Linked DNA regions of Homo sapiens. The protein of the gene in region 1 interacts with the protein of each later gene in a biochemical or structural test. Each region holds a gene or a part of one and is shown in the gene's direction. Other genes may lie near its edges.

Region 1 (7,112 bases):
AAGTGAAACATTATAGTGAAGAAGTGTTACTGATAATGGGCAAATGGAATAAAGTAGTGTGTAAACAGTTGACTTTTCTCTTTTATGGGTGAATAAAGGCTTTGGGTAGCATAGAAGTGGAGATCTTGGCTAAGACCAATAGTGAAGAAAAGCATTAGACTTACTGCTCCAAAGTGATACACTGTAGTTCTTTCCAGGAAAGAGAATTTTTCCCTGGGCAAACTTAATTTTCCATGATAAACTTTTATAGACATTCTTCTGAACAAAGTTTTTGATTCTTGAATATAATAAAATACACTTAAGAATTTAGCAAATCCTTTATAGTTATGTACTTGAATGAAAGAATGTAATCATATAATAATCCATAAATTTTTAGCAGTAGTAGAGCCTATAAAAAATGAAAAAAGTTTTTTAGACTCTCATAAAATCTGTCAGATTGATGATCCAATCCTTTATATCCAACTCTCTCTCTCTCTCTTTTTTTTTTTTTTTTTTTTGAGATGGAGTCTCACCCACTCGGTCGTCAAGGCTGGAGTGCAGTGGCAGCGATCTTGGCCCACTGCAACCTTTACCTCCTGAGTTCAATCAATTCCCCTGCCTCAGCCTCCTGAGTAGCTGGGATTACAGGTGTTTGCCACCATGCCTGGCTAATTTTTATATTTTTAGTAGAGACAGGGTTTCGCCATGTTGGCCAGGCTGGTCTCAAACTCTTGACCTCAAGTGTTAGCCAGGTTGGTCTTGAACTCTGGACCTCAAGTGATCTGCCTGCCTCAGCCTCCCAAAGAGCTGGGATTACAGGCATGAGCCACCATGCTGGGCCCAACTCTCTTTTTGTCATCTCCGCTTATATAACTCAGAGGCATTTCAAGCTCTGCAAATCCAAATCACATTGATGATTCCTTTCTCCCAGCCTGCTATCCTCAGTGTTGCCCAGCTCAATGACTCACACTTCACCTAATTGCCTAAGCCAAAATTGGGGAGTCATTTTGCACATTTTGCACATTGGATATGAATCTCTCATATCCAATCAATTCCCAAATCCTATTGACTTTCTTTGATATCTAAATATCCCACATATTCACCCATTTCTTTCTATCTACTCTTGTTTAGACCACACTTGTTTCCTGCATATAATATTACAATAGAAAGAATAGCACAATAAACACCCAGATGTCCTTTTTATTTTATTTTATTTTATTATTTAAAATTTTTATTTACATGGAGTAGAGACAAGGTCTCACCATGTTGCCTAGGCTGATCTCAAACTTCTGGGCTCAAGTAATCCTCTCGCTTAAGCTTCCCAAAGTACTGGGATTACAGGTGTGAGCCACCTCGCCTAGACCCAGATGCCCTTTAACAAGTTTTCCCACTTACTTTATTTTTTTTGAGATGGAATTTTGCCCTTGTCACCCAGGCTGGAGAGTAATAGCACAATTTCGGCTCACTGTAACCACCGCCTCCTGGATTCAAGTGATTCTCCTGCCTCAGCCTCCCAAGTAGCTGGGATTACAGGCACCTGCCACCACACCCAGCTAATTTTTGTATTTTTTTTTAAGTAGAGATGGGGTTTCACCATGTTGGCCAGGCTGGTCTCGAACTCCTGAACTCAGGTGATGCACCTGCCTTGGCTTCCCAAAGTGCTGGGATTACAGGCGTGAGCCACCTTGCCCGGCCTAGTTTTCCCACTTATTTTACAATACTTACTGCATTTTTCTGTCTGTCTGTGTGTATGCATATATACATCTACATACATATATCAACCTAAATATACCTATATCAGTATAGACAGATATATGCTATTCTGTTTGAACTTAAGTTGAAGATACCATCACACTTCATTGCTAAATATTTCACCACATGTCTCTTACAATCAAAGACATTCTCCTGCAACAATACCATAATTAATGTTAAAGAAATTTAACATTGATACAATAATATTGTCTAATACATAGTCCAAATTCAGATTTTTCAAATGATCCTCAAATGTTTTATTTTAAAATTCTGAATTCAATCAAAGATTACATTTCATTGTCATGTCTATTTAGTCTCCTTTAATTCACAAAGCTCCCCCTCTCCCAGGTAATTTTGGTTTTCAAGACGCTGACAGTTTTGAAGAAACCAGGCCATTTCTTTTGAAAACTAGCCACAGTCTAGATTTGTCTGCTCATGAGAAGATTCACGTTCAACATCTTGGCAAGGATATTGTGTAGATGATGTGGTGATTTTCCATTCAATTGCATGATGCCCCATGATTGGTTATGTGAATTTTGATCACTTGGTTAAGATTAGGAATTTTTCCCCAACATATTACTATGAAAAAATTCTCAGACATACAGAAGAGTTGCAAGAAATTTTCATTCAGCATTCATATACCCATGAGCTAGGTTCCTTAATTTGCATTTTGCTATATTCTGCCATAGTCTTCACTGGTTCCCCACATATTACTGTGGTCTACCTACAAGCCACAATCGTCTTTTTTTTTTTTTTTTTTTTTTTTTTTTTGAGATGGAGTCTCACTCTCGTTGCCCAGGGTGGAGTGCAGTGGCGTGATCTCAGCTCACTGCAACTTCCACCTCCCAGGTTCAAGCAATTCTCCTGCATTAGCCTCCTGAGTAGCTGGGATTACAGGTGCACACCACCATGCCTGGCTAATTTTTTTTTTTTTTTTGTATTTTTAGTAGAGACAGGGTTTCACTGTGCTGGCCAGGCTGGTCTCGAACTCCTGACCTCGTGATCCACCTGCCTCGGCCTCCCAAAGTGCTGGGATTACAGGCATGAGCCACCGTGCCCGTCCCTTGACGATCTTTTAAAAAGGCCAATTTGACCATGTTGGTTCCCTCCTTCGAACCATCTACTGGCTCCCCATTGCTCTTCAGATAAAGACACAAACCCTTGACCTGTTCTCCATGGTCCTATCCCTGGTCCTGCCCAGCTTCTTCACCTGGTTCAACAGGTACACTTGTCTCTTGGCTGTCTTCTTTCCAGAAACACTGGCTTGTGCTCCATTCTTTGACTGCTCCATGATTCTTTCTGCCACTTCACATAGGAAGCTCTTACCTTTTCTCTTTCTGTTTCCCTTTTTGGCTAATTAAATTCTTGTCATCTTTAAAGGCTTGGCTCAAATGTCTCTTCAAGAAAGCCTTCTCTAATTGCCCAGGGCAGGTCAGACTCCTCTGCTGTGTGCTCTTAATACTCTGTGCTTCTCCTTTGTATGATTTGTAGTCTGTCAGTATTGTAATGAAATAATTCATTATGTAATTAATTGCTTAGTGTGCATAAGCGCCGTAATGGCAGAGGCTATGTCTCTTGTTCATAGTCATAACACCATTGCCTGGCTTGGTGCTTTACACGTGGTAGGCACTCAATAAATATTTGGTGAATGAATAGTTACTACGAATAACTATATAAAATATATAAATACATTTTTTCAAGTCAGTACTTTCCCTTTTCCTTTTAGGTATTGATGTCAAGCTGAACCATCGTAGGAAGTTGAAAGCCTTAGAAAGAGGACTTGGTAAAGTTTTTGGATTATCTTGAAACTCTGGCAAGATGGCCAAGTATGGAGAACATGAAGCCAGTCCTGACAATGGGCAGAACGAATTCAGTGATATCATTAAGTCCAGATCTGGTAGGTAAAGGAAGCTCAAGAAAGCTATGGATTTTTATGTATTTAGAAAACCTATGTTTCTTGGATTGATTTGCATTGTTCTTGCAAGAACTTCTTGGAGGTGAAGTTCTTTTAAGAAACTGAATTCTGACAAATGACTATAATTTTGTAAAAGGTATATGTAAAAGGTATAATATCTCTGAGTGTCCTATCCTTTCTCAACCCAATTTTGTGCTTAGTGAAACTGCTGCTTGTAGCTAAAGGTTGTTCATTTGGAAGACTACTCCATTAAAATAAAATACGACCGAACATTTCTCTTTCTATTTTCTGGAAATTGAAGGGATTATATGCTTAATGTAGGAAGTGCCACAGTTTCTGGCAGGAAAGATCTTTCACAGTTTGATTTCATTACCATATATCCTCACCCCCATCCCTGTTCATAGCCATTGATAGGCCAACAGGTGTCCTACCTTGAAATATCTTATGAGCCTTCTCAAGGTAAAATTTTCACCTAGGTAATCTAATAAACCAGACTCAGACAGATTCATGGTTTTCACACGAACAGTTAAATTGGGGTCCTCAGGATACCACCCCCTCCTCCAATCTTTTTATATAACCGAGTGCTTTTTGACTCTGGCTGTACAGATGAATCAACTGGGGAGTTTTAAAAAACGCAGATGCATTGGCTCCATTCCAGACCCATTGAATAAAAATTTCTGTATTTTTAAAAAGCTTCAAATATGATTCTGAGACAAACTCAAAGGGGAGATATTTTTGAACAGGCAGAACACTTCTCAGCCTTGAAAATTACACAGAACTCCACCCTGAGTGTGAACACTATACTTAAGTAACTTTGAAAAGTTACTTTGAGGTATAAAATTACATCCAGTGTCACTTTAAAGACAAAAAAGGAACCCAAAGCCTGTTTTTGCTGTGTGAACCATCTTTATGTTCTGTTAGGAGCTTGTTTCTTATTATGTGAAACTGTAGAAATACACAGTGAAAATAAGATCTAAATTAACTGTCTTAAAATACACATTTTCCTCCATGATACCGGTGTTGGTTGATTGATAAAGATTTTAGTTATTACAGATTTGGCTGTAAATATGTAGCAACTATTGTGTAGCTTGACGGGTCTTTTGAAGGTATAGCTTAATATCTTGTTTTAAAATATGCTTTGAGGATGTTCTCTTCCTGTAAAATTCTTTTTGTTTTAAATGTTTTAGTGGTATAAGGTACTACAAAAATGTAAGGGATTATTAATATCATCTTAGGAGTACGGAATACATATTCAGACATATGTAAATATAACAGAGGAAAATGGAAGAGAGACGATTTAATGTCTCCATACTAGTCATTTTCTATAAATTGTGAGGAGGTATATTCCTAAATAGTTTTCTGAGTCAGCCTTCATTCTAGTAAGACCTTTGATATTTATAACTTGTACTTTAGCCGTGTCCATAAAAGAGTAATTATCTAATTTCAGAAATACCGTGTATATATAATGAACATATAAACTCCCAAACTATTTTAATTTAAAATTATCTTTTAAAAAGGCTGATGAACCTAAAATATTGCTGGAGAACAATTTGGCAAAAATGATAACATGTTTTTAACACATGCATATCAATTAACTGAGTAATTCTGTTTCTAGAGTTTTTCCCTAGGCAATACATAAAAAGGTACACTCAAGAAATTGATCACAGTATCATTTATAATAGAAAACATTGTAAACACCATGAAAATCTAATATTAGGAATTGGTTAGATCATTATTTCCCAAAGTATTTCGAAAAGATCAAAAGTTCTAGGATTGTTAATGTGTAATTCACAAAAGGATGTTATGGTCAAATAGCTTTAGGAAATAGTTGTTTAAACCTATTATTCTGTTTCTTTACTCTAGCACATCTGAACAGATCATACATGATCTCAGTAGAGGTAACTAAATTAGGGTATATCCATAAAGTAGAAGATTAAGCATTCATAAAAAGTGATACAGATGTGTGTGATGTGTGTGTGTGTGTGTGTGTGTATGAATATAGAAATGTGTTCTTGATATAGTAAGTAAACAAGTATGTATTATATGAAGTCATTTATATGAAAAATGTTTTTTAAAAATTTAGTGAAGTATACAATAAATGTTAATAGTGGTCATCTTGGCATTTGAGATTATTACTTTTTTTTTTGCTGATTTATATTTTCTAAAGTTCTTCAATGAACCCACATTACTGAGTTCTTATATTTTTAAAGATTATCAAATTGCTTAGAGTGTTTAGATGCCAAGGTTATGACTATTACTTTTTTTGTGGTGGCATCTACTTCAAAACACACTGAAAATTTAGTTGTTACATAGCTCAGATATGAATCACATTCTTTTGGCTGAATTATGTTGCAAAAGCCAGTAGATAAATTTGGATTTGAATGGACCCATTAGTCCCAATCTGGCTTCCTCTAAGGGACTTTTTTTGATTCTTTTAAGGCAAATGCTTACTATACAGAGGTAATATTTCATGGTACTCTAAAACTTACATATTTTAAGAGATTTTTAGTTTAGATTAAGTCATAGGAATTGTCTACATATCATATATGTATTTTAAAGATCCTCTGTCTACATGCTGTATGCCAAATTGGTTGCTTTTCCATTTTTTAAAAGGGAATACTTTCCTTTAGGAAAATTTTGATCCTCATCTGCTCTTCCAGGTTTCTTTTTTGGGGGGAAATTGGATGAAAGTGGGGGGACGGAGAGTGTGGTTTCTGCTCTCCAAATCCTCGAGTTTGGACAATCCAAAAGGCTGGCATAATTAAATTGGCATAATAAAAATGTCTATGCATTTTATGTTAAGTTATTGTGATTATTTTTATTGTCCTCACTTAGTATTACTTTGTTTCATGCCATTTTGAATATTATAATTTTTTAAATTTTATAATTTTAAAGCCATTTCTACCATCTAAACAGAAATAGGAAGTTGTCAAGGGTACGTAATGAAGTAGTTTCATAAATACAAAGCCATGTATTTATTTATGGTTGTAGTATACTTGCCTTGGGTTTGGGTGAGTGTTAGAAAGGAACTGGAAAGAATTTGATCTATAATGACCAAGGATTTGGTGTTGGGTAAAAGTAGACCTGTCTTTCTCTAACTTAAAAGCACATATGCCAAGTTCATCATCAAGTACTGTATTATTAACAGCCTTAATTAGTAGGCTTTAGAAAGTTCAACAAGTTAGTAAATATTTTGAAACAATAGGCCAAGACTAAGAATTTTTAAAAAGTGAAATTTATTGCCAGTAGAGTGTGTGATGCAGAAAGTACTGCTTGGAACATTTTAAACATGAAATAATAAAATGGTTTGGGATGCATATACAATCGAAGAATATCCTCACTGCTATTTCATTCAATAATTAACATACATTAAAGCTAGTAACACAGAATAAGTCATCCTTTTCTGTTGCTGTCAGTGTTGTTGTGGTTTTATCCCAGAGCCCTGTAGAAAGAGTAGACCTCAGGG
Region 2 (7,288 bases), on another chromosome or scaffold:
CCGCCTCCCAGGTACAAGCGATTCTCCTGCCTCAGCCTTCCAAGTAGCTGGGATTACAGGCAATACGCCACCATGCCCAGCTAATTTTGTATTTTTAGCAGAGACGGGGTTCTTCCATGTTGGTCAGGCTGGTCTTGAACTCCCGACCTCAGGTGATCCACTCGCCTCGGCCTCCCAAAGTGCTGGGATTACAGGCATGAGCCACCGCTCCCAGCCATGAATTTTTAATGTATGAAGAAATACATCAAAATGTTGATACTTGTTATTTCTGATAGTTGAATTATAAGTGCTTTTAATATTATTTCACAAATGTTTTCTGTATTTTTCAACTTCTCTACAATGGACATGTAACATTATCTTTTCATGAGAACATGGAAAGTTACAAGTTTTTATTATTAAGTTTAAAAACCAACGTATTTTTCACTAAGAATACATTCAGAATATAAGTATATAATTATAATTTTTAAACACATGAAAAAATACAAAAACAGAGGCTTGAGGATAAATTTCCAAAAATGATATGGCAAAATGATTCAGAGTTCACAATAGGTTATCTGTAAGATATGGAGCCATCAATTTCATAGTGTTATTTAAAAACGGATATTTTCTGTGATGTACTCACAGAAGAAAAACATAAAGAAATCCTTATTATTTATAGCCCCATTGTTACAATTCAAAGGAAAAGTGCATGTTTGAAATATCTTAAGGGTAAAATAGAATATCTTGATATTAAATTGTATAAATTGAGATGGCTTGCAACAGACTTGTTCTTTCATAAGAAATTTTTATGAGCAGAATAGATACTAATCCGATTAATATTTTTTAGGTCAGCTGCTCAAAGTGGCCCAAGAAACAATGTGCTTGCAAAAATTGTTCAGTAGATCACAATCTTTTTTTGTTGCTGTCAACACACTTTCTTTTTTAATTTAAACCAGTGCCCTAACAATAAAGCACTTTGTGGTATGAAAAAATAAATAATAATTTTTAACTATGATGTGAAAATTGCATTTTCAGAGGTTCAAATTGTTTTGCTTGTTTTAATTTCATTAACATTGGCCATCAACGTTTTTTGCAGCCATGTTGCTTAATTTAAGCGCGTGACTTCTGAGCCCATGTTGTTACCTTGAGTTTGTAGGAAATTAGGTGCTCTCACATCTGAAGAGAGGGCAGTGAAGCATATAACTTTGAAGCTCCCTCCTGCTTCTATGGGACTAGGATTTGGCAAATTGACTTCCTGGGGTACCTTCTGAAGCATCATTACCTATGTCTCAAAAACTTTTTCTAAGTGATTGAATTCTTCATATGAAATTAAGTGGGTCACAAGAGCACAGATTATGTTGCATATTTTGTTCACATGAGGGGGAAGTTTAATTTTAACATTTGCAAAAGGGGATTTAAAACTTTGTGAAACCAAATATACTGGCGTCGTATTCCCTAGGGGTTAAAGAATCAACAGTCACTTTAACATCTGACAAAGGATGCACCTTCTGTTTGGCAATCAATCATATTAAATGCTCTAGTAACAGTGTACCTTAACTAGATAAATGATAAGCTCTTACATTTACAAAATGAAAAACAATTAGATACGTGTAATGGCCACATAACCAATCTCCAGGGGAAAAAAATGTACAAGGTAAACACTCCTGATGAAATGAATGCAGTCAGTGAGAGTCTCTATTCAGCCAGCCACACATGAGAATAGGTATGAATTATTCAAATTGGGGTTCAAATTATTCAAATAGTCTCTCCTTCATCAACTGTTTTGAAGAGGATTAGGGAGTGCTAATTTTCCGGTGTAGCTGCTCCTTGCCTTTTTGCCTGGTCGGCCTCACACATTTTTTTGGATTGGATCATCATGAGTCACCGCGCTGAAGGATTTTTCAAGGTTGGAGCAGTGCCAAAGCTATTTTAATCATCCCAACTGATTTGTTGTGGGGCTTTTCTTTCTTACTTACTTTTTAATGATAGAGAAATCTTGCAATGTGCAACATTCACTTTATTCTTTCTGGTAACTTCCTGCAATGAAAAATAAAATTGTTTTTTTCTACCACAGGCTTTTTTAACCCCTGGCTGCTTCTTTGTACCATATTCTTCAAAGGGATTTTAATGCTAATTTTCCTATACCATTGGCTTTGGTGTCAGGTAATTTCCTGAATTTGATTACGATGGAGAGAAGCAGCTAAAAGTCTACACTGGTGAGCAGTTTACAGTACTTGTTAGAGATCAAGGTGACCTTGTAAAGGCTTCTATTGACACAATATTGGTTAATTACTAGAAATGTAATCTATGTATATAATTTATATTTTAAAGCCCTTTATGATGAAGATTCTTTACAGTTCATCTTAATTTGAGAAAGTATCATTAACAAATAACATATAGACCATTTTTTAAGAATCCAAAATGAATACCACAATGAACTGCTGTACTTGTGTTTTTCTTCCATATTTAAAGATGAAAAAAATTAACTACCATGTTTAACATTCTTCCCACAGTCCATTTCATACTAGAAATATGCTTAACCTTCTGACTGATCAGTTGCTCCTAGCTGGTTTGTAGGTTGGAGCAAGCAGCCCTTGCTCTTTGCCTAAAAAGGTCTCTATATTTATGCTGTGTTGTTATGTAAACCTATGTTAGGAAACATAGGATTGTTAATGCACATCTTGTTGAAAATGACAGTTTATTCAGCAAAGGGAAGTCACGTGCCAGTCAGCTTTCTCATGGTCCCTCTTGTTCAAAAATCACATATTGACTAAATAATACTAGCCAGAATTTATTGAGCATTTAGTATGCTTCAAGCTTGGTGCTTCCCTTGGACTATCTCATTTAATCCATTTCCATTCCTTGTTAAAGTAGGAATTTTACAGAAGAGTAAACTGAGGGTTAGAGAGGTTAAGTAACCTATCCAAGATCACAAAAGTAGTATGGGCTAGAGCCAGATTTCAAATCCGCATCTGCTTGATTCCACAATTGCTCTTCTTAAGAACTCCTCTGCCTTGCCTCTCTTTGTGATGTGATGTACTAAGAAAAATTCTGTGCAGATCTCTGAAGGGTTTAACCACAGCAAGCCATGCTCTGAAGACAGTCCTGGAGGAGTTGAGGGAAAGCTTTCAGATGCCATCTTTATCCATTGAAGAAGTAGCCCTACCTAGTGCCAAGTCTTTTGATGGTTACTTGGTAGAGAAAGATGAGTAAGACAATGTTCCTGTTCCTCTGGGAGTCCATCTCTAAAGAGAGAAGATAGATATGCAAACAAATTATTGTGAAATGTAAGCTAAGTTTGGGAAATAAGGAAGGTTGTGCAAGAGCAGAGTGATTATGCGAGGCCTGAGGGATGAAGTAGCCATCCCTGGAGGACGGGGGCACCCACTGGCTGATTAATGTACCATGGTGGGAGGAAGGACCATGCTGACATGCTGGCAAGCGGGGAAGCTCCAGTCACCTGGGACTCCTTCAGCTTTTCCCTAAAGGACTGGTAATGCGCTGAAGGTGATTCCTTAAATCCTAACTACATAGCCATTGGTTTGGGGAGTCCCAGGATTGCTCAGAGTTTGTATCGTTTCAAATCCAAGACTGCTGCTCTTAATATAGAGCCCTCCCCACCTCAGCAAATATAGCCTGATCGATTCCAGCAGGCTGTGTTGCCTGCTTTAAATTTAAATGATAAATTTTAAAAGAACTGAAATCTGTTTAAATAACAGTTAAACACAGGGTTTTGATGAAAAGAAAATGAAGAATTTTACCTCCCACATCTAAGCTGTGATTAGAAGTTTGCTCTAGAAAAAAAGCACTTTGAAACTAGCCCTTCATACACTGATGTAGTGTTTTCAGCATCTGTGTTTACTGAATACATTACTGCATTTTTTAATGTTTCTAAAGGAGCTGTGGGATTATTGCTGCATTTCCTATTGAGTTAGTAACTGACATTTAAAAATATTTAGTTGGCTGATGTAGTAGATAATGATCAGTATTTCAAAAGATTAATGGTGACTTAAAATGCATAGAGATATTTCATTAGTTAGTTGGGAAACCTTTTATTCTTATACTTCTGTTATTTTTTTCTTGTTCATGAAGTTGAGTCAGCAAGAGAAGCATATTCAAATTAGACTTGTCATACAGAAAAAAAAATCTGACTTTGTCAGGGTGGGTGGAGGGGAAAAAAGCAACTTTTTGTCAGTCTTTTGTATTTCAGCAGCTGGATTCATTGCTACCATGGTAACGGACCACATGATGAGGTGTATTAGATTGCTGTGTGTTGAGCACAAGGGGAAGAATGAACACAGCTTTTTATTGAAGTTAAAGGTTACTTTGGAGTTTGTTTGGAAATGTGTAAGGTCAAATACTATAGTTTTCAGCATATGTAGTACTTCAGAGGAAGAATTAAGGGGCATGTTGGTGCATTTAACTACAAAACCAGGTAAGGTACAATTGAATCTATGAAACTGAACTCTCTGACTTCTGTCGCAGTGGCATAACTTGCTGGGTGGAATTTCACTGTCGCCCCCACCCCCACCCCCACATGGGCACCCGATAAATTTCTCCTGCCCACCCTCCTAGCTCCTCCACCTCCGGTTTCAGCTGTTTTTAATTTGAAAGTCTAAGATGTTGTGAAATGTTATAGTTTTATGGCAGTGTGTGTGTGTGGGAGTGTGTGTGTGTGTGTGTGTGTGTGTAAGTCAAAGAAAGAAAACTGCAAAGGAAGTAATAAGAATGCAATAACTGGTGTCTTCAAATCAGCGTAGACCTGAACAAAGTGTTTTCTTGTTTTGTTTTTTGAAAATGGTCCGCTTTTCTTAGAGGACACCTTATTAGTGGCATTTGTCCAAAGCTACTTGTCTCTTCTACTAAATTAAGCAGTAGGACAAAGTTTTCCAGCAAAGTTATCTAGTGTGTTTATTGTATGTGAGCTTTTGTTTTTCTTTCATCATATTATTGCGAGCCTCATCTAACATGTATAGTCCGGTTTTATCTATATTTTTTAAAACATCTATTATTTCTATTAGCATTCTAATCTTTTAGGCATTGTGGCTGTATGTGTGATACAGGATTTAAAAATAGAAGTAAATACAACATGGGTGAGTGCAAAATGAACTCTTTTGCTTAGAGGCTGGTAGGAACTGAATGTAAACAATTCAGTGTGGCTGTGTGGAGCATCAATTCCCAGAGCGCAGACGCCTTCTCATGCGTTGTTTACATATCACCCTGGCAGCTTGTTTCAAAATGGGAGGCTTTGGTACACACAGAGCAAGTTAAAGGAGAACAATTTCTTTAATAATAACTTATTTTAATTACTTTTTCATGGCTTTTACTGATGTTTGATGTTTGATGTTTGACTTTCTCATAAGATATTAGGATTTACTCTAATTTTAGCCAGGGGTTTACTTAATGCAACTTCTTTCCTTCCTCTTAGAACAAAGCTGTCTTAGCAGCTTTTAGAAATAAAACCTAATTAAATAGTAGCAAAGCCCTACTGTTATTCTAGTGTATTCACTGTCCACCTGAAAAAGTGCAGATATAGGAAAATCTTTTTGAAAAATACTTTCTTAGTGAACTAAAATCAATTATGTGCCCTTAATTGGCACTAATTAGGATAAAAGCCAATAAATTTTCCCAAGTTTGTTCATACAGCATGCTTTCTTACAAAAGGAAAACTTAGATTTTATTAAATTTATTTATGCTCTGTGATTTTCGTCGCTATTTCCTTGATCTCTCTAGTTTCCATATGTCCAAGCCATTTTCTAAGTTTAAGCAAGGAATTATAATCATTATTCAAAAAAATTATTTGCCATGATTTCAAATAAAGAGAACTGTTTCCATGATGACAGATATCAAAAGTACTATAATAGCATCTAATATTGTAAATGTTCATGCTTGTATCTGAATTTATTCCTTTCTTTTTCCCTTTGTTGTTTGAGTACAAATGAGCTATGACCATGTCTTTCAAAACATGAGATATTTTCATAAACATAAGTTGTTACTACTAGAGAATAGGGAGTTTCTAAAAATCAGTGAAAGATGGTACCTGGTAAACTATTCTAAAGTATGAAATTATTGAAACTGACAATATCTGAGGTAGAAAGTGTTATGTTTTATTAAAAGAAAAATAAAAGAGGGAAAGAAGAAGCAAGACAGAGACACAGAGAGAGACAAAAAAATGAAAAGATATACAAAAGGTAAAGATAAAAGTGTAAATGATCTCTTACCCAAGCATTTTTCTTTCCCGCCGGTACTGGAAAGGGTTAAATCTGTATCTGTCAGAGAAGAGAGTAGTATGGATGAGGGAAATTACTAAAAAGTATTTTTATTTCACTATTCCATCTTTAAAATACATGATAAAGTATAGATAGTTCCTTTCTATTAAATAAAATGAAAAAAAATCTACAGTGAGGTTGTCTCAGTCTTTGTAGTTATGGGCTACCAGCCAGCTTAGATATTAGAGCTACAAGTGTGTAAAAACCAAGATATGCCCAAATTTCTGTGATCTTTATTCATCTGACATTAGACCATATGTACACAAAAACTTCTGAAATAATTTTAACAGAGATCACAAGATGGAAGATTCTTTTATAGTTGTTTTGGTATTTTCATTCTTAAGAAGCAAAATTGACTTTTGATGTACTTGCTTTAAACTGTAAATTTTGCCAGGATGTTTTAATTGTACAGTATTTGTTTCAACTCTTGTTTAAATTATGCTTTCTTGTTAATTTTGAATAATTTGTAGTGTTTGTTAACATTTTAGCTTTAATCTCTAGAGCTGCCTAGAGTCATAGACCAATAGATAATTATCTGCAAACATTTACCTCTACTAAGGAGACAGATATTTAACAGTTTTTTAACATGTTAAAAAACAACCATATTGAGTAAAATAGTATAGCCTCTGCTAAAAAATTAATGATATTTAAATTCCAAGAAAATATTTCTAAAATAGATGAAGATCAAGCCAATGAATGATGACTCAATATCATCTAGATACTCCATTTTTAGGAGTTATTTTTTAACCTCCGATTTTATTAAGGTGAATTTTATTATTGACCACTATGTAATTTTTGACATGAAAAGAATTGGATTTTTTTTTTAGAAATCTAAGACTTTTCAAATGAAAAAGAAAGTAATGGTACCATGATCATGATGATAATGATAACGACAATAATGATTAATTTGGAGAATAAGATAGATTAGAAAGCTCTTGCCTCTTTGTGTAGTAAAAGGCCAATGCTCTTAGAAGGAAAGTGGAAATTACTAATGGGTAGTATGATTCTCAGAAATTAACCCTCAAATTTAATTAATTATG
Region 3 (7,112 bases), on another chromosome or scaffold:
ACCTCCTTCTTGACAATGTTGATGTTACACTTGTTTTATTTTGGGGCTTTTTGTGTTTGTTTGTGTGTGTGTGTGTGTTTTCCTTTTTGTGAATGGGGGTCTCACTGTATTGCCTTTTTAAATATATTCTTTTTTTTTTTTCCTTTTTGTGAACAGCAGGTCTTGAACTCTTGGGCTCAAGCTATCCTCCTGCCTCTGCCTCCCTAAGTGCTGCCTGTAAAGGCATGAGCCACTGTGCCTGGCTTGATGATGTTGATGATAATAATAAAGTTAATATGTGCTGAGTAGGTGACAGATTTAGGATTTGAAACCTGGCAGCTTATCTCCGACATCTACAGTCTTAACCAGAAAGGAAGAGAATGAATGGTACAATCTTGCTTGTGGTTGTTAAGCTCCTTGAGGCCCACTTGTGCAGCAGGGCCAGGCAGGGAATGCTGACCTGCTGTGCCACACAGACCAGCCCCTCGGTTCACCAAGAGGGATGGGCAGAGCAGAGCTCAGGATGGGCATGGGATGCCCAGATTTGGTCTCAGTTGGCAAAAGGCCCAAGTCTGCAGGTAGATGCTAAATCCCTGGTCTGGATTTTGAGAACTTAGAGACCGTCACACTTCCTGCTGCCTTGGGCTTATATCCTCGGAGAAACAGGGAGTGACAACAAACTTAGAAGGTGAACTAGAGGTTGCCAAGGAAACTTTCCCACCCATCTTCCTCTCGTAGGAGTTGGGGCAGAAGGAAGGTTTTTTCCTGTTCATTGCCCGTTAGGCAGATGGGTAGGGTTGGAGGCAGTCTAGCAGCACTGAAAGGGAGGATGGGGCTGAGAAAAAGGTAGCCTGAGGAGACCAGGCTTTCAGTACCCTGCTGGACAGGGCTAGGGTACCCTTCAGGAGGCTGGCCCAATCAGGTGCCAGCAGGGCCTAGAAATGCCCTTCTCTCCAAGGGGTGTGAACCCTAGAGTTCCTTTGGAAGGGAAAAAAGCAGGTATTTAAAAATCCACTTGTCTTGCAGACACTGTTTGAGGACCAACCAGGCTTAGGTGAGCTACAGGGTGCGTGGAGAACAGAGCACCAGAGAGCTCTGTGGGCTGGAATGAGCAGACAATAAGAGCTGGGGGGCTTCATGGAGATGCAAAGGTTGATGAGGAAGAGAGAAGGAAGTTAAAAGGGCCTCTTCTGGGATGTGAGGAGCCTCCCCCTTCAAACATCTACCAAATGCATGGGATCTTCCTCCTCCAAGGTCCAACCCCATGTGTTTCTGGGATCTGGTCAAACAGCTCACCAAAAGACAGCCTGCAGCTACCATGCAAAGGCCCTACGTGGGCACAGTGAAGAAGGGGAAATGTCAGAATCAGGATACTGTACTTAACTTGCTGCTGTCGTTTCTGCCTGAAAAGCATCTGGTTGAGCTAGCAAGCTTCTTGTCTAGGAATGCTGGACAGTTCCTTGGGTAGTAGCAAGTCATTCTTTTTTTCTCTGTGGTTTTTGAGTGCTTCACGTACAGCCAGCAGGGGCCATGAAAGGAAGAACTTTCACTCACACTCCTCTGGTCACCCTGCTGCCCTCCAGACTGTTTCCTTGAAGTTTCCAAGGCAGCTCTGGATGGTTCTGGGATGAGGCTCTGGCCTCATATGCTTTGTTGCAGTATGCTGGAGCGATCGCTCCAGATGTTCTTTGTGAGATGTAAACCAGGGCGCTAATCAGGAGTTAGACCAGACTCTGCATTTTTTTTTTTTTTTTTTGAGACAGGGTCTCGCTCTATCACCCAGGCTGGAGTACAATGGCATGATCATGGCTCACTGCAGCCTCGAACTCCTCCTGGGTTCAAGCGATCCTCCCGCCTCATCCTCCAGAGCAGCTGGGACTATAGGTGCATGCCACCACACCCAGTTGATTTCTTAATTTTTTTTTTTTTTTTTTTTTGAGACGGAGTTTCACTCTTGTTGCCCAGGCTGGAGTGCAGTGGTGCGATCTCAGCTCACTGTAACCTCCTCCTCCTGGGTTCAAGCAATTCTCCTGCCTCAGCCTCCCTAGTAGCTGGGATTACAGGCACCTGTAATCCACCATGCCCAGCTAATTTTTTGTATTTTTAGTAGAGACAAGGTTTTACTATGTTGGCCAGGCTGGTCTCGAACTCCTGACCTCAAGCAATCCACCTGCCTCAACCTCCCAAGATTTCTTAATTTCTTAATTTTTTGTAGAGACAGAGTCTCCCTATGTTGCCCAGGCTCGTCTCAAGCTCCTGGCCTCAAGTGATCCTCCTGCCTCAGCCTCCTAAAGTGCTGGGATTTAGGCATGAGCTACCTTGCCTGGCCTAGACTCTGAACAGTTTTAGTGAGATACCATAAGTTTATCCAAGTTTCTTCTGTGTTGTAGCATATATTCTTTTTTACTGCCAACCAATATTCCCCGGTAAGGATATGCTACGTTTGTCTATCCGTTCATCCAGCTGATGGGCATTTGAATTGTTTCCACTTTTTGACTATTATGGATTATGGTGCTGTGAACCTTGGTTACAGGTTTTTTGTGGATTTCTGTTTTCATTTCTCTTTTGTATATACTGAGGAGCGGAATTGCTGGCTCATATAGTCTGTGTTTAGCACTTTGAGGAATGTACACGTCTTCACATAGATGTATGTTTTTTGTCTAGACCATACCCTTTTTGTACAGGTTGAACATCCGTAATCCAAAAGCCAAAATGCTCCAAAATCTAAACTTTTTGAGTGCCAGCATGATGCCACAAGTGGAAAATTCTACACGTAACCCCATATGACAGGTTATAAGCAAAATTCAATCACTTTATTTCATGCACAAAATTATTTTAAAATGTCATGAAATTACCTTCAGGCCATGTATATAATGTACACATGAAAAATAAATGTTTAGACTTGGGTCCCATCCCTGAGATATCTGATTATGTATATGCAAATATTCCAAAATCCAAAACAATTTAAAATCTGCCACGTTTCTGGTCCTAAGCATTTTGGATAAAGGATATTCAACCCGTATTATGTTTATATGCCTCTTCAGTGCTGGTAGTTGTAGCTTCTGCTTCCTCATCCCCTCATTTGAGCCGGGTGGCAGAGCAGGGCAGACTGCTGCCTTGCTCAGACCTAATCGTTCAGTTCTTTCATTGTACAAGTATTCATTGAGCAGCAAACATAAGCCAGTCTCTCTAAGTGCTGGGATGTATCAGTGAATAAAGAATATATGCCTGCTTTCATGTGCTTCCATTTTTACTGGGGGAGATGGCAAATAAATGTAAAGTGATAAATAACAAAGGTTCAGTGGGGCATTCGTAGTTCAGCGGCAGAAATTTCGTCTCCTACGCGGGAGACTCGGGTTCGACTTCGGCCATGCAGTCCTTCCATGCAGGAAGGGCTACTACGTTTCTACCCAACAAAGTTATTATGGCTGGGCGCAGTGGCTCACGCCTGTAATTCCAGCACTTTGGGAGGCCAAGGCGGGCGGATCACCTGAGATCAGGAGTTTGAGACCAGCCTGACCAACATGGAGAAACCCTATCTCTATTGAAAATACAAAATTAGCCAGGCGTGGTGGCGCATGACTGTAATCCCAGCTACTCGGGAGGCTGAGGTGGGAGAATTGCTTGAACCCGGGAGGTGGAGGTTGCGGTGAGCTGAGATCGCACCATTGCACTCCAGCCTGGGCAACAAGAGTAAAGCTCTGTCTCAAAAAAATAAATAAATAAAAAATAAAGGTTCATGTAAGTTTTGGGTGGCGATGAGGGCGTTGAAGCAGTTATGACCATGTAGCTACCATGACTTTGAGATGCAGTCTTCTCGCAGTGTGCACAGGCAGCATGGAGGGAGGCAGGGTACCGGCTCTCCCTCCTGAACCAGACGAGCTGTTGTGTTGCCAATGGAGGTTCAGGGAGCCAGTGATGGGACAGCTCTGCTCCTGAGCTTTGCCACCCACAGGACCTGGGCACTGGACCTTATGATGTGCTTCTCTGGAGTGAAGACTGGCTGTCACCTCAGCCCCCTCTCCTTTCTTCTGCTGCCATATCATTCTTCACATGCCTACCAGCCCCCTGGAATCTGCCCCTGCACCCTCATCCCTTATATATTTTGCAGAGAGCGTTTAGAGGACTGGAAGTGTGGCATGTAATGGTATCTCTGTTTCCACCCCGCAGCCCACCTTGGGACACCTTGACTCCAAGCCCAGCAGTAAGTCCAACATGATTCGGGGCCGCAACTCAGCCACCTCTGCTGATGAGCAGCCCCACATTGGAAACTACCGGCTCCTCAAGACCATTGGCAAGGGTAATTTTGCCAAGGTGAAGTTGGCCCGACACATCCTGACTGGGAAAGAGGTGAGCACTGGGACTGGGGACATGGCAGCACCTCCCAGCCCTGTTGACACTCCAGCAGGTGGTGATGGGACTACTACTGCAGCCAACCTCTTGTTTATCCGGCAGAAATGAGATCTGAGATATAGGGGTGCAAAAAGCTGTGGGATGAAAAGGAGTAAGAAATATAAAGGAGGAAGTAGATTGGAATCCTGGGTTTCGCTGGTCAGAGAAGTGATTTGGGGCCTTTTTGTCTCATCCTCAGGTAGCTGTGAAGATCATTGACAAGACTCAACTGAACTCCTCCAGCCTCCAGAAAGTAAGCACATGGCACCTCCTGTCCCTTTTTTTTTTTTTTTTTTTTTTTTTTTTGAGTCAGAGCCTCACTCTTGTCGCCCAGGCTGGAGTGCAATGGTGTGATCTCGGCTCACTGCAACCTCCGCCTTTTGGTTTCAAGCGATTCTCCCGCCTCAGCCTCCCGAGTAGCTGGGATTATAGGCACCCGCCACCACACCTGGCTAAGTTTTGTATTTTTAGTAGAGATGGGGTTTCACCATGGTAGCCAGGCTGGTCTCGAACTCCTGACCTCAAGTGATCCGCTCGCCTCGGCCTCCCAAAGTGCTAGGATTATAGGCGTGAACCACTGCCCCCAGCCCACCTGTCCCTTTCTAAATCTCTCTTCTGGGGTCAATGATCTACTGACCCCATTTAGACCTTCTCTTGAATTCCTAGTTTAAATTTTCTGGCCATTTCGCTCACCGTCCCCCAACCATTCCCTCCCATGGCTCTGCTACCTTCGGGGCTTTGGTTGGATCATCTGTGGTGACTCCTCCTGAGTGGGCTTCCTGGCCATAGGCACTGGCTCTTGTGAAGTCTTTCTGTTCATTCCCAGCCACTTGGCCTACCTGTCTGACCTACTTCCTGCATCTTGTTATCTTCTGGCTTGTGGCCAGCCCTATGCAAAAACACATGTTTGTAGCCACTACTAGAAACACGTGCAGCTACTTCAAGATCTGGAATGATACAGGGGAGTGGCTTTAGAAATACAAGAATAAGAGGAAGCAGGGAACCTGCCGGTGGGTTCTGTGCCAGCTACCTTTTAGAGAATGAGCTCCAGCTCAAATTTTCTGAACAAAACCTAGTTCTGTTCATCTTGTGGCAAATCAGATATTTTCTCCATAAGCATATTGTGGCAGTTGAGTTAGGAGAAGGCATGATTCGTGCTAACAGAGTCAGATAGTGATACTGGGAACCTTAGGAGTAAGGGCTGAGGATTGTTGTTGAGGGCGATGCTCATGGAATTAGAGTGGATGAGTTGTTCTCCGGACATGCAAATAGCCAGAACCAAGGTGTTTCCTATTTATTGTTACCCCTGGGATCCCTTCAAGGGTTCTTCAGTTCAGTAGAAACATTGTTGTCATCATCAGGGTGTCTCTGCTTGAAGCTTTCCAGGAGGAAGGGAAAAAGGGCTGCTTATGACATCCTGGCTCCAGCCCCACAGAAGAAGTCAGCGTGGGGTAGGCCATTTGGCCTTGGGAGCAGTCTAGCCTGCCATCGTAATAATCGCCAGTCCACCAAGCCATCTTATTCCTGACCTTGTTTTTCTCCCTAATTCTTCTTGGTTTTCTCCCTAATTCTTCCTGACTCTCTGGAAGGCACCAACACCAGACAAATAGAGCCATTTTCAAAACCTTTTGAGACTCTTTGTTACTAAAGCCAGTCTGATTCTGGCCAAAAATGTGATCTCAGCAATGATCCCTGAAAAATGAACATTGAAGAAGCTAGCCCCCTCAGGGGTCTAGACAAGCCCAGAAAACCCCAAGTTCTCCCAGAAGAATGTCACTTCCATGCCAGGTGAGCAGCCTCAGGGGAAGAAGCCCTGGCAGCTGCCTCTGGCCCTATTTCAGAGCTGCTCCCCATTACTGCCCCAGAGGGTGGTATCCAGGCTTTTTGCCTCTCCATCCAAAATATCTGTTGGACCAGGGAAAAAAGTAAGAAAAACCTAGGCCCTAATAAAGGGTAAGGTCAGCATTGGGTTCCTGAGGATTGGAAAGCCTTTTTCTTCTTTTCCTTTCTAGCTTAGGAAAGCTCTGGGGCATCATTAAAGGGGAAACAAATGTATTCACTTTATTCCATAAACCATATCTTGAATTAGGGCTTCCCCTACCCCCAACAAAAACAACAACAAAAACTAGTTCTGTTCTTTGTGCAAGTGATGAGGCCTGAAATTACAAAAAGCCCCACCTCCAGTTCTCTGGCCCCCGCAGAGGGGAAGGAGTTCATTTCTGTCATCTTTCTTTATGGAAATACATGGTTTGGAGCCCCTGGTTTTGTTTCACAAAGAGAGCGTGAGTGTGTGGAGGTGGATTTGATTAAAATTGGCATCAGCTATATATAGGAGTGGCTTCTTCTGTCACCACCCTAGAGGCCCAGGAAGGAAAGGCCTATCCCCTAGAACAGAGCCCTCTGACTACTGTAAATCAGAAAATGATGGGGTCCCCCTCTGGTGCTCTACCACCCCTTTACACAGACCAAGCTGGGGTGTGTACTGTCACTGAACCAAGGCAGCAGCTCGGATTCTGAATATTCACGCACACGGGCTCACACTCCCTCCAGTAGAGGCACCCAGCCAAAACCTGCCTGCTGTTTTGGGGCTGGATTTGGTAGACGCAGCAGAGGGCATGGCTGGCTCATCCTGATGCCATCCCGGGTAGCACGTCCCCACAGCCAGCCCTCCTCCAGCTTCCCCAACTTCCCAGCCACAGGGAAGGCCGTGCATGAGCTAGACAACCACCCTATTTTCTTTT

Evidence for each region.
Region 2: the proteins of UTRN (region 1) and DTNA form a complex in vitro, tested with the Homo sapiens proteins (one study listed by BioGRID and IntAct).
Region 3: the proteins of UTRN (region 1) and MARK2 form a complex in vitro, tested with the Homo sapiens proteins (one study listed by BioGRID).

Annotation. Positions count from the first base shown.
Region 1 is NC_000006.12:144,288,280-144,295,391, forward strand, and holds part of UTRN (utrophin), read left to right. Parts: intron 1-3,457; 5' UTR 3,458-3,549; coding exon 3,550-3,628; intron 3,629-7,112.
Region 2 is NC_000018.10:34,706,032-34,713,319, forward strand, and holds the start of DTNA (dystrobrevin alpha), read left to right. Parts: upstream 1-4,266; 5' UTR 4,267-4,414; intron 4,415-7,288. UniProt on the Homo sapiens protein: May be involved in the formation and stability of synapses as well as being involved in the clustering of nicotinic acetylcholine receptors.
Region 3 is NC_000011.10:63,891,010-63,898,121, forward strand, and holds part of MARK2 (serine/threonine-protein kinase MARK2), read left to right. Parts: intron 1-4,149; coding exon 4,150-4,329; intron 4,330-4,570; coding exon 4,571-4,624; intron 4,625-7,112. UniProt on the Homo sapiens protein: Serine/threonine-protein kinase. Involved in cell polarity and microtubule dynamics regulation. Phosphorylates CRTC2/TORC2, DCX, HDAC7, KIF13B, MAP2, MAP4 and RAB11FIP2. Phosphorylates the microtubule-associated protein MAPT/TAU.